Homo sapiens: one gene and its partner. The protein of the gene in region 2 purifies or fractionates together with the protein of the main gene of each other region. This does not show direct contact. Each region holds a gene or a part of one and is shown on either strand. Other genes may lie near its edges.

Region 1 (4,778 bases), on a different chromosome or scaffold from region 2:
GAGAAATGGGAGGCAGTTCTGGGAGGGGGTTTTTTCAGTGTCACCAACAGAGTCAACAAGGAAACATAATTAGAGGGCTTTGAAATGATCTACTGAAATACCTAAATTGATAGAAATTAATCATACTCAATCTAGGACATGTTCCTTTACTCCTTAAAAAAGAAAGGAAAGATCTCTAAATTCAAAGCTAGATTGTAAATAGGCATTCAAGAAGTATTGTCTTAAATTTACGATGAATTTCTTGTGAGCAGAGGACGAAACAGGTGAATTCTCACCAGACTCAAACCAGATCTCAATTCGTAGTAATGCTAAATCGTCTTCCGTGTTCTCAGAGGTTCTTTTCAGTGTCTGTCAGAACTTGGCATACTTTCTCCATAGTACGTAGACCTTCTAATACTCTGCTAAATGAAACCACACTTGTTATCTGAAAGTGTGTGAAAGAAACAATGTATGAAAATTTACATTTGATCATCCGGCATTGGAAATAGTTTGAACTATTTCCAAAAATCCCTTAGGGGATGAGGGGTGAAATTTAAAAGCTCCTGAAAATGAGTACTGCTGTGTTGAGCTTTTCTTTCCTGGGGTATATTAATTTAGTTATATTTAGCAGAAGAGGAATATAACCAAATGTGACTAAAATATAGCAGAAATTCAGGTTGTTTGTAAAAATTTTAATAACAAATAGCATTTGGCAAGTCTATAGGATTCTTCCTATCTGGAAATTCTATTTTGTTAGAGTGCGATAGGACATATGGAAAACCAACACAAAGTGCTTTAGCATTAAAACTCACCATCAAATAGATGTAATCTTATTAATTACACATTTTGTATTTTAATTATTTCAAGGAGTGAAGAAAACAGGGTGTTTTTGTTTTTGTAGTTCTGATTACTCATTTATGCATTGTTTTGTTTAAGTAAATTCTGCCTACAAGTGAAAAGGTCGGTGCGCTCTTCTGTGCACCATCCTCACGGTGCTATTTCCGAATATCTGAATATTGATTTCTAACACCTGGATGAGGCTGTGACCGATCAACTTGGAACACTGTAAAGGTTTTCGAATGGGATACGCTGTAGGCACGTTTTAAGAAGTATTCTGTTCCTAAAGTCCAGGTATGATTGGATTAATATTTATAAAATTATTATTAGGAATTATTTAAGTGGGGCCAGGCATCTTGCAACATTTTCTGATTTTTTTTTCTTTCTTTCTAATCTCATTTTGGTGATATTTAAACAAACATAAATGATTGTAACTTTGCAGCTTTTTTATTTAGGTAGCTTTAATTTATTTATGAAAGTTAATCCATTTCTGATACGTGGTTTTTAAAAATATGAAATGGATTTATATATACTATATTCCTCAAATCCACTGTATGTGGACTTATATTCATTTTCTCCTTTTTTCGGAATTGAAACATTTTAATTTCAAATTCAAATAGAACATTTAAAATGATTTCATTATTATTACCCATACTGTTGCCACTCATATTGTAAGTCAGTTTTTTCATTGCTGGTACAATGACTCAGTATTTCTTTATAAAAATCTGTTGTTCTGAAAATCAACAACCTTAGAAGGATTTTGTCTTAGAAAATTTCCTTGGCTTTAGTTTTATATCATATTTAGAAAATAATAATGAAAAGCATCCCCAAAATTTCAATGATGTGAATTTTTAAATTACCTTTATTTCTTTAAACTAATTCCATTGATTGTTACTTAAATTTTCCACCTGGAATCATGGATTTAAAATTTCCCCACCTCATGGGGAAAAAACTAACCCAGAAGTTCAAAGCCTTTAAAGTTTCATCTGATTCTGGCCTTAGAATTGTCCTTAAAAGCTTTCTCCTGGCCGATAGGAGGAAGCATATATCAAGGAGGTTCTTTCCCTTCCCATTATCATTTTGTGGCAAGCCTTAAGTTAACAATGTGTCTACCAAGAACAATTGAGTTTTCTAAAAGTAATAATGAAGATTATGCAATTCTAACTGTAGAAGAGATAGCTATTAAAATAATCAGTAGCCTGGGCATAGTGGCTCACACCTGTAATCCCAATACTTTAGAAGGCCAAGGCTGGAGGACTGCTTGAGTCCAGAAGTTTAAGACCAGCCTGGGCAACACGGGGAGACCCTGTCTCTACAAGAAATTAAAAATTAGCCAGGCATAGTTGGCACGTGCCTGTAGCACCAGCTACTTGGGAGGTTAAGGTGGGAGGATCACTTGAGCCTGGGAGATAGAGGCTTGCAGTGAGCCGTGATGGCACCATTGCACTCCAACCGGGGTGACAGATGAGGTCCTCTGTTTACCTCCCCCCCCAAAAAAAAAATTCAGTAGGAATTCCTTCATAGAATAACATGTTATTTATTGGTATTGACTTCTTATTAGACAGAGCTCATAGTATTTGTTTTCTGCTCCGAACACTTAAAAAATACTAAGACGTGATAGTGAAAATAGCTTTGAAAAGAAACTACATATGGCAAAGGTGGGGAGGGGGGAAGATGATGCATTCTGATCATTATAAAGAATACTTTTCAGGGCTCTATCATTTTCTCCCTTTCTCTAATCATCCAGAATATGGCGGGTGTCCCAGTGTTCAACAGTATCATGCTAATATTCCATTTGATCGGTAGTCCAAGTTCTTTGGCCAGATAGTGCAATGTTGTGACACCGACCGAAGCCTTTGTTCTGGATCTTTCTTCCTATTGAAGGTGGCTGCTGGTGGCTTCATAATTTTCTGTTTTTTTTCTCACAAAGTAAATGGTGGGCATCCATGTTTACATTGCACCTTCCCGTGCTGTAATTGGCTTGACAAAGACAAGCAGGCTTCTCTGTTGAGACTTATTGTGTTTTTAGTTTTCATAGACACTTATTTAATCTTTTTAAATTGTACAGCAAGGTGCTCTAAGTAATATTCGATAAAATATATTTAATAGAAATTTGCGTTTGATATTCATGAACATGAATACATGTATTTTTTTAAGAAATAAGTATTGTGTAACACTATGGCATTGCTTCTATAGCCAAAGTATAAAAATTTCTGGAATACTGACATGTAAAGACTACAGTTAATTCTGACACTGTATCTTATTAAAATAGGATGATTTGCATTTTGTAAAATTATCCTGCACATCAAGCTGCATGCCTTAAAGCGGAAACTCTAGGACTGTGTTCATGGGAGAGCAGTTCATCTGTTCAGAACAGTGAGGCAAGGTCTGTAGTGCTTCTTTAACTACCTTTGGAAATACTGTACAATGTTAGAATAATTTATTTTGCTTTACAGGAGTTTGTCATGTATTGACTTTAATATTGTATTTTGGTAATAAATTTTTTGTTAAAAAAAACTTGGCTCCAAGTTCTATTAACCACAGGTTGTGTTCATTCTTTTCCTGGAAATGATGACTTTATTGCTTAGAAAGTTGTAAATAATTAAAAGCTTCCCAAGAGTTAAATGAAGGTTATGATGACTCTTGATAACTTGTTAATCTGTTGCTGACTAGCATTAGACTGTTACACGAAGATAAACTGAATAAGCATTTAGCTTTTTAAATCATTTTAAAAATTAAGTCTAATTTTGAAGCTTTTTTCCTTGCTACCCAGTTCAGTTTCTCTTCCAAATGTGACACGCTTATATGCTTTCAATTCTGATATAGTCAAAGTGCTAAAGACTAGTTCTGCTATTGACGAAGGAATTAGCATTCCTTAGTGAAGGCCAAAAACTACAGTGATATGTTCACACCTTGATCACTCTGTCGTCTATACAGACAGCTATTGACATATTTGTTGCATTGACGAAGCTAACATCATCTGACTGTATCGTGGGTCTGGTTATCCATTTGTGCCCTAGAATCCTGGGTCACCTCAGTTGAAAGTGACCAAGGCCAAATATTTCGTCCCATGCTTCCCAGGGACAACATAATCATATCCCCTGTCTTTGAAAAACCCAATCTGAAACTGTGTCACTAACCTCCAAATTAAAGAATCCGAGCATGGAAGCTCTAGAACGTATGGTCCAGTGTGGCAGCCACTATAATATCTAAGTGTAAAATACATAGCAGTTGCAAAGACTTAGTACAAAAAGAATGGAAATGTATTAACAGTTTTTTATATTGATTACATGTTGAAATGATATTTTGGTTTAAATAAAATATTAAAATTAGTTTTACCTGTTTCTTTAGCTACTAAACAGTTTTAAATTACATATGTGGCTTACATTATATTTCTTTTGGACAGCGCTGGTACAGAAGAGAGATTAGCAAACTAGGGCCCTCTCTTCAAAGCCAACCTGCCACCTGTTTTGGCAAATAAAGTTTTATTGGCACACAGCCATGCTTTTGTGTGTGTACATATCATATATGGCTATTTTCAAGGTACAACAGCAGCACTGAGTAATTGTGACAGAGACTCTATGGCCCACAAAACCTAATTTACCACCTATCTGATAGAAAAAGTCTTCTGACTAGACCTCTGAACTAGAACAATGGTATAATTTGTGCTCTAGAGCTACCAGGAAGAAAACGGCTTTTTACAAAGAAAGCTTTTTATAGTAGTGCTTTATAACTAAATTAGTTTCTTCCTTTGTAATTTTTATAGTCTACCTGTCTACAGATTTTAACCATATTTTATGACTTTAACCTATTCCATCGCTGATATTTAAAGCCAGTTTGAAATAACAATGCATAATTAAATAATAAACTAATTCAAAATGCAGCTATAAAAAGTCTCGCTTGCCTCCTGACAGCTTTACGGTGTTGATGTTGGCCCCCACGGCTTCACCCTGTCAGTGGTG
Region 2 (8,081 bases):
CTGGCCTCAGTAAACCAACCCAGGCCAGAGAAAGAGAAGTGCGGCCCCCTCGCCCGTGTAAGTGGAACTGCAGCGGAGCCGATAGCTCAGCCATGAAAAAATCATGAGGTCGCCAGGCTGCAGGTCTGTGCTCAGGAATAACACCCGGGGCTGGGCCCCTGGGAGTAGGTGCTGGGCCAGGAGTGAGGACATCAAGGCCCGGTGTGCCCAGCAGGGTGGCCCTCACCTGGCTGCAGGGCCAAGGGGACAACAGAGCCTAGGCAGGGGCTTGGCACGGGGACAAGGGGGAGGGTGGAGTACCTGGGAATCACTGGAGACAGGGATGCCAACAGGAGTGGCAGCGGTCAGGGCCTGGCACTGAGGTGGGGGCTCCTCCGATGCCTGCAGGGAGGGCTGCAGGCACTGCTGGCCTGTGAAAGGCGTGGTCCTCAGCCGCGGGGTGGCCCCAGGGCTCCATTTCCCAGTTTTCAGGGCTCCAGTCCAGCAGGGCGAGGAGCCACCTCTCCCCCAGCTGCACACACGCAGGCCTGTGCCAGCTCACACCACCAGCATCAGCGTTGCAGGGCATCCAGCCTGGAGCACGTGCCGGTCACCATGGCAGCAGACAGCGTGCCAGCAGGAGCCCAGGCTGGGCTCAAGCATCCAGGATCAGTGGTCTAGGCATGGGGGGCTTGGGGTCCTTCCCCTTGGAGCACCAGACGGGCCAACTCGGGGAGGGGAAGGGGGACCCTGGAGCACCAGGACAGCCCGTCCACCAGCACCTCAGAAAGGGAACGATTTCCTAAGGGCTCTCGGGAAACCTGAGGGTGGACACCAGGTGCCGGTGGGGGCGCATGGCTTCCTGGTCCTGCCCAGCTGGCCCCGCACTGAGAGGGATGGAGGCCGAGGCTCAGGCCTCGGGAGGCTGCCAGGGGATTCTGATGGCTGAGGCATTCCTTGCCCTCTGGGCTCAGGTGAGGCCAGGAAGTCTGTCACAGCTGGCTGCTCCCTGGACCAGGGGGCTGGGGGTACTGCTACCCCAAACAGCCTCTCACTGCCCACCGGGACAAGGCACCCCCTCCCAGGTGCAGACCTCAGCTTGGGCCTCAGGCACACACTGGGCAGGGGCTTCCACCAGCCTCAGAGGTGGGCGAGGGTGGGGCGTGGAGCCCTCAGTGTGGCAGCGCCTTTGAATGTCGCCACAGTGCAGCCTGCACAGGTCAGGGTGGCAGGCACGTGTGTATCCCATGTGAGTGGTTGGTTGGCACCTCCGGAGGTGTGGCCACAGGGCTTGGTGAGGGTCAGTGGGAGGGGTGCTTCCTGTTGCCTGAGAACACTGCAGGGGGCTAGAGTGCCCCAGCCCACCATATGCTCTTGTGAGTTGTGTATGTCTGGAGTATGAGTGGGACCCTGGAAATAGCCTCCCTTGGGCAGTGTACAACCTGGGCTCCCTGCTGGGCAGCCCTGAGTAGGCTCTCAGGCTGGGATCCAGGATGACAGTCCCAGGGTCCAGAGTTGGCCCAGCAGGCGACTCTTCTGGCAACCTTTGCCCACCCTCATCCATGAGCACCTTCACACACACACACACACACACACACACCACACTCACACACATGCACAACGCTGCACCCATGGGCAGAGGCTCAGCCCATCATACAAGAACCCGGCCCTGTGCTGGGGTCCCAGCTGCTCAGGAGGCCAAGGTGGGAGGATCGCCGGAGCCCAGGAGTTCGGGGCTGCCACTGGCCAAGATAGCGCCACTGCAGTTCAGCCTGGGTGACAGAGCAAAACCCTGTCTCTAAGATAAATAAAAAGAACCAGACGGCCAGGCACGGTGGCTCACGCCTGTAATCCCAGCACTTTGGGAGGCCGAGGCAGGTGGATCACCTGAGGTCAGGTGTTTGAGACCATGCTGGCCAACATGGTGAAACCTCATCTCTACTAAAAATACAAAAACTAGCGGGGCGTGGTGGTGGGCGCCTGTAGTCCCAGCTACTTGGGAGGCTGAGGCAGGAGAATCGCCTGAACCTGGGAGGTGGAGGTTGCAGTGAGCTGAGATCACGCCACTGCACCCCAGCCTGGGCGACAGAGCAAGACTCTGTCTCAAAAAAAAAAAAAAAGGCTGTGCCTGGTGGTTCACGGCTGTAATCCCAGCACTTTGAGAGGCTGAGGAGGCCAGATCACAAGGTCAGGAGTTCGAGACCAGTCTGACCAACATAATGAAGCCCCGTGTCTACTAAAAAATACAAAAAAAATTAGCTGGGTATGGTGGCAGGCGCCTGTAATCCCAGCAACTCGGGAGGCCGAGGCAGGAGAATCACATGAACCTGGGAGGCAGAGGTTGCAGTGAGCCAAGATTGTGCCATTGCACTCCAGCCTGGGTGACAGTGTGAGACTCTGTCTGAAAAAAATAAAATAATTAATAATAACCAGACTCCCGACATCCAACAATCTCAGGCACTTATTAAGTACCTGCTGTGTGCCAGAAATTTTGCTGAGAATCCAGAGGAAGCGATCCTAGCAGGTGGCTGGGCAACAGCCTGGGGTCCTGAGGTGGAGGCAGGAGGGGCTGGAATCCCTGTAAACGGCCTCCCTCCAAGGAAGCCTGGCCCAGGCGCCCACCCTTCAGTCACCCTCCCCTGTTTAGCTCACACAGCTGGGTCAGTGCCAGGCAGCCCCACCCAACGTGGAGCTGTGGGGCCCTAGAACTGAGGAGCCGCCATCATTTCTGGCTCTGCCACCAAGAGGCTGCCCAGAGCCAGGCCCACTTAGTGCCGGGCGGCCAGGCTTCCCCCTGCTGAGCACCCGATGCCTAAGCGCCCTGCCAGCCCAGACAGCGCTAATGAGGCCGTCGTGCCAATCAGAGGGGCAGGCCGCCTGGGCTCCTCCTCAGCCTGGCTGGGCGTTGGGGTGTGGAGGTGAAGCCAGTGTCTGTGCCTGGGGTGGGGGGGACCATGGGCACAGCTGCCCCTCCGGCTTCCCCCACCGCTCACGGACCAACCGAGCTGTACCCTCAAAATCCAACGGGAGGCCGGGCGCAGTGGCCACGCCTATCATCCCAGCACTTTCAGAGGCCGCGGCGGGCAGATCACTTGAGGTCAGGAGTTCGAGACCAGCCTGGGCAACATGGTGAAACCCCATCTCTACTAAAAATACAAACATTAGCCGGGCACGGTAGCAAGTGCCTGTAATCCCAGCTACTTGGGAGGCTGAGGCAGGAGGACTGCTTGAGCTCGAAGGTTCCAGTGAGCCAAGATTGCGCCACTGGACTCCAGTTTGGGTGAGGAGCGAGACCCTATTTCAAGAAAAAAGTTTTTTAAAAAGAAGAGCCAATGGGAAAGTGAGGTGCAGGCAGCACCCTAGCTTGTATCCCTAAACCAGAGACAGTTCCCTGGCATCGGTGCTAGGCCTGTGTCCTCAGTCCCCTGGAAACTGTGGGAGAGTGTGTGTGGGCATCGTCTCTGGGAAGGGGGTGAAACCCCAGACTGCGTCTCCCCAGGATGGTGCCTGGCACGTGACCTGGTTTCGCACACAGTTGGTGCCTCATAAATGCGTGTGAATCATAGAGGCGGATGAGGCCAGCACACAGGGAGAGGCGAGAGCAGGCCCTGGCGTCGTGGCGTACGCTGTGCCCTGGGGGGTATTTGCATGTGGGAGTCTCTCTGCCCCCACCCTGGCCCCTGAGCGTGGGGACAGTGGGGACAGGTCTCCTCTTTTTCCTCCCCTGTGTCTGCAGGTGCCTGGCACGGTTGCTGTCCAGGGCTTAGAGGACAGAGGAAGAGCCCCTGAGTCTGTGCACACTCTGCCACCATGGCCCTGCCCACCTCTGGAGCCCACAGGTGCCCAGCCCAGGCCCCTTGCTTTTGGCTAGACTCCTGCCCTACGGGGACCCCCATGATGGCCACTCAGGAGATGGGCCCAGGAGGACAGGGGAGTGACTCCAGGCCATGACCGGAAGGGGCCTGTGGCCCCTGTTCCCAGTCCCCAGGGAGACGGGAGGGTCACACGCTGTTATGAGGAAGAGGACACCGGGCTGGCCCTGGCCCAGGGTGGCCAGCTCTGGTTTCACTACTTGGCCCCAAGCCCCTGAGGCAGGTGCAGGAGCCAGGCACGGTGAGCAGGGCCCAGTGCCCCTCAGGCTCTGGGGAAGGGGTACAGCCAGGTGGCCCAGAGCAAGGAGGTGCTGTAGACAGGTGTGACCACTTCCAGTCTCTCCCGGCCTGCTGGCCTTCATCCTCTCCCAGATTCCAAGGGCCACCGCTGGGAGCATGGGGTGGACATCGTCCCACCAGCCTCCTGGATCCACATCCGTAAAGACTCCAAAGTGAAGTGAGGCTGGCTTCACTCCAGCTCACAGCAGAGGAGGGGGCAGCCTCAGGGCCCAGCAACTTGCTCAGAGCGCACAGGAGTGCGCTGGGGCCGGGCCAGCCTGGCCCAGGGCCTCTGACTCTGCCCCCTGCCTGCAGGGCTGCACGGCCACTGTGTTCCACCCTCCAGCGTGGGTGGCAGTCCAGTGCGTCATTCTGGGGCCTGAGCAGTGTGGCCAGAGGCCGGTCTGGGGTGGAGGCGACCTGGGCTGCAGGTTGTGGCTGGGGTCCTTGCTATGCTTCTGGCAGCAGGAATCAGAGAAGCAGTAACTGGATCCAGCTGAGGGCCTGGCGGCCACCGAGGGTACGGGCGGCGATCAGGTTGCGGCCGAGCCGTGAGCGTTCCACTGGACGGCTTCTACATCCGGAAGGGCTGGGCCGGGCCGGGCCGGGAGCCCACACGGGGTTGGAGGAGGGGGGCAGGAACGAGAGAGGCCAAAAGGTGCAGGGCCGTGAAGAGGGGCGCTGGGCCCACGCTATGAGGAAAAGGGGATCAACCCTGCCCTCCAGCCCCGTAGGCCCTCAGGCCCTCGGGCTCTGGGCTCTGTGCAATCCGGGAGTGGCTGAAATCCAAGCTGAGGGTAATGAAAGGTGCTGCTCCTAAGCCGCACGTCTCTGATCCGCCCTCCCCGCCCGCCCTCTGCTGCCCGCGGGCCCTCTAAGAGCTGCCCAGGCTGCTGCCGCGGGTCAGAGGCGGGTCAGAGCAGGCAGGGGGTTCGTGACGCCGGCTGGGTCTGGGGGCTGTGGGCCAGCCGAGCCGACCCGGGCTTCTGGGGGACCGCGGGGGCCGTGAGCACTCAGAGGGCGCATCCCAGGCCCCTCCGGGGACCCGGCCAGCCTGAAGATGCCGACGAACGGCCTGCACCAGGTGCTGAAGATCCAGTTTGGCCTCGTCAACGACACTGACCGCTACCTGACAGCTGAGAGCTTCGGCTTCAAGGTCAATGCCTCGGCACCCAGCCTCAAGAGGAAGCAGACCTGGGTGCTGGAACCCGACCCAGGACAAGGCACGGCTGTGCTGCTCCGCAGCAGCCACCTGGGCCGCTACCTGTCGGCAGAAGAGGACGGGCGCGTGGCCTGTGAGGCAGAGCAGCCGGGCCGTGACTGCCGCTTCCTGGTCCTGCCGCAGCCAGATGGGCGCTGGGTGCTGCGGTCCGAGCCGCACGGCCGCTTCTTCGGAGGCACCGAGGACCAGCTGTCCTGCTTCGCCACAGCCGTTTCCCCGGCCGAGCTGTGGACCGTGCACCTGGCCATCCACCCGCAGGCCCACCTGCTGAGCGTGAGCCGGCGGCGCTACGTGCACCTGTGCCCGCGGGAGGACGAGATGGCCGCAGACGGAGACAAGCCCTGGGGCGTGGACGCCCTCCTCACCCTCATCTTCCGGAGCCGACGGTACTGCCTCAAGTCCTGTGACAGCCGCTACCTGCGCAGCGACGGCCGTCTGGTCTGGGAGCCTGAGCCCCGTGCCTGCTACACGCTGGAGTTCAAGGCGGGCAAGCTGGCCTTCAAGGACTGCGACGGCCACTACCTGGCACCCGTGGGGCCCGCAGGCACCCTCAAGGCCGGCCGAAACACGCGACCTGGCAAGGATGAGCTCTTTGATCTGGAGGAGAGTCACCCACAGGTGGTGCTGGTGGCTGCCAACCACCGCTACGTCTCTGTGCGGCAAGGTAGGGAGGGCACAGGTGGCGACCTCCTGAGGGGTGCTGGGACCCCCCTGCTTCAGGGAGGAGGCCGTGGGGGTCTCACGGGGAGTGGTATCGTGTCTGTGCGTTCACATGTCTGTTCTGGGCTGGGGGTCCATGTGGGACATGTGTGGCCACTCAGGGTGTAGGTGGGTGGGCCTCGGGCCATGCCCAGGCGACCCCCACTGAGGGGTGGTGGCTTCAGGGTCAGAGGCAAGGGTTCCTGGCCTTTCTCAGCATAGCTGGAGAATGTCTCAGCCAAGCCCTGGGCAGCTGCGGAGTCTGAGACTGGAGAGGTGTGGGCCAGGCGATGGGCAGTGCCCAGCAGGGGCAGGAGGCCCACAGCCTGGCCTGGTGCCATGAGGGGCATGTGGGCAGGAGGCTGTGGGGGGTCCATATCTCCCCTTCTTTTTCTCCACCCCATTTTCTGGACTTCATTTATTTATTTATTTTTTGAGACAGAGTCTCGCTCTGTCACCCAGGCTGGAGCGCAGTGGCGTGATCTCGGCTCACTGCAAGCGCCGCCTCACGGGTTCACGCCATTCTCCTGCCTCAGCCTCCCGAGTAGCTGGGACTACAGGCGCCCGCCACCACGCCCGGCTAATTTTTTGTATTTTTTAGAAGAGACGGGGTTTCACTGTGTTAGCCAGGATGGTCTTGATCTCCTGACCTTGTGATCTGTCCACCTCGGCCTCCCAAAGTGCTGGGATTACAGGCGTGAGCCACCGTGCCCGGCTGCATTTTCTGGACTTTAAAGGAAATTGGGGAGGAGCCCAGGGTAGGGCAGGGAGCTGGGGATCGGGCGGGGATAGCACCACCACGTGCCTGACCAGTGGAGCCTCGTGTCCTCAGGAGTGGGGGGGCTTAAGGTCAGCTCCAGTGATGGAGGACACGGTGGGCAGGCAGCTTTACCCGGGGCCTGGGCTCCTGGTGGGGAGGCACCTCCCTGCCCCAGTGGGGCGTGGCCTGGCTCTCCCCAGTTCCCAGGTCACCAGTTGCCTGTCTGTGTGACTCCCTCCACCGCCTATGGGGTGAACCCCAGCAGTTCCTCCTTCCCCACAAGCTGAGCTCTGAGGGAAAAGCCCTGGCCCGGGCAGTCACTACCCACCTGGGCTCCTGGCTCCATGCACCCCAGAGTGGCTCGGAGGTGGTCTGAAAAGGCGAGGTGGGGAGAGCCGGGTGCATGGAGCTCCTCCTCCCAACTCAGGTCCTTCCAGACCAGCATCAGCTGGGCAAGGAGAGCTCCCCTGTCTCCTGGCAGCTCCCAGGTGCCCACCAAGCCCCCACCCTGACGGATGTCCAGGCCCCCTGGGTACACTGACACTCTGGGGCCAGATGGCAGAGGCCCCACCCTGTGCATGGAGAGGGGAGCCCAGCCATGGCTATGGGGTCCTGCACCTGCAGTTGGCATCCTCGGGCCTGTCCCAGCAGTGACAGGGTCCCAGGAGTGAGAATTCAACTGTGGATGCACGGCCATGGCCCTTCCTTCCTATCACAGCCCACAGTCCAGCTGTAATGCCTGCTGGCCTGGGCCCAGGCCGGGCATGTGGCAATCCTTAGGTGGTTAAAGGGGGTAAGTGGGACAGTGGCAGTGAGAATGCTTCCTCCATGGAAGCCAAAGACACTAGACCTTTAGGCATTTGTATATGGACAGCTTGGAAAGCAGACTCAAAGTGGCAGTCATGGCCGTGGCCGTGGCATTGTGGTGTGATGTGCATGGTGGCGTGGAAGTGGAGGTGAGGACGGTGGTGACAGTGTGGTGGCAGCAGCGACAATGATGGTGATGGTGATGATGGTGGTGATGGTGATGATGGTGGTGATGGTGGTGATGGTGGTGATGGTGGTGATGGTGATAATGGTGATGGTGGTGATGATGGTGATGGTGATGATGGTGGTGATGGCGGTGGTGATGGTGATGGTGGTGATGGTGATGGTGGTGGTGGTGATGATGGTGGTGGTGGTGATGGTGGTGGTGATGATGGTGATGGTGATGATGGTGGTGGTGATGGTGGTGATGGTGATGATGGTGATGGTGATGGTGGTGGTGATA

What was found.
Region 1: the proteins of FSCN2 (region 2) and ZNF507 purify together in Homo sapiens (affinity purification with mass spectrometry; 2 studies listed by BioGRID and IntAct, with this or other methods). This does not show direct contact.

The regions. Positions count from the first base shown.
Region 1 is NC_000019.10:32,383,520-32,388,297, forward strand, and holds the end of ZNF507 (zinc finger protein 507), read left to right. Parts: 3' UTR 1-4,148; downstream 4,149-4,778. UniProt on the Homo sapiens protein: May be involved in transcriptional regulation.
Region 2 is NC_000017.11:81,523,342-81,531,422, forward strand, and holds the start of FSCN2 (fascin-2), read left to right. Parts: upstream 1-5,035; 5' UTR 5,036-5,190; coding exon 5,191-6,016; intron 6,017-8,081. UniProt on the Homo sapiens protein: Acts as an actin bundling protein. May play a pivotal role in photoreceptor cell-specific events, such as disk morphogenesis.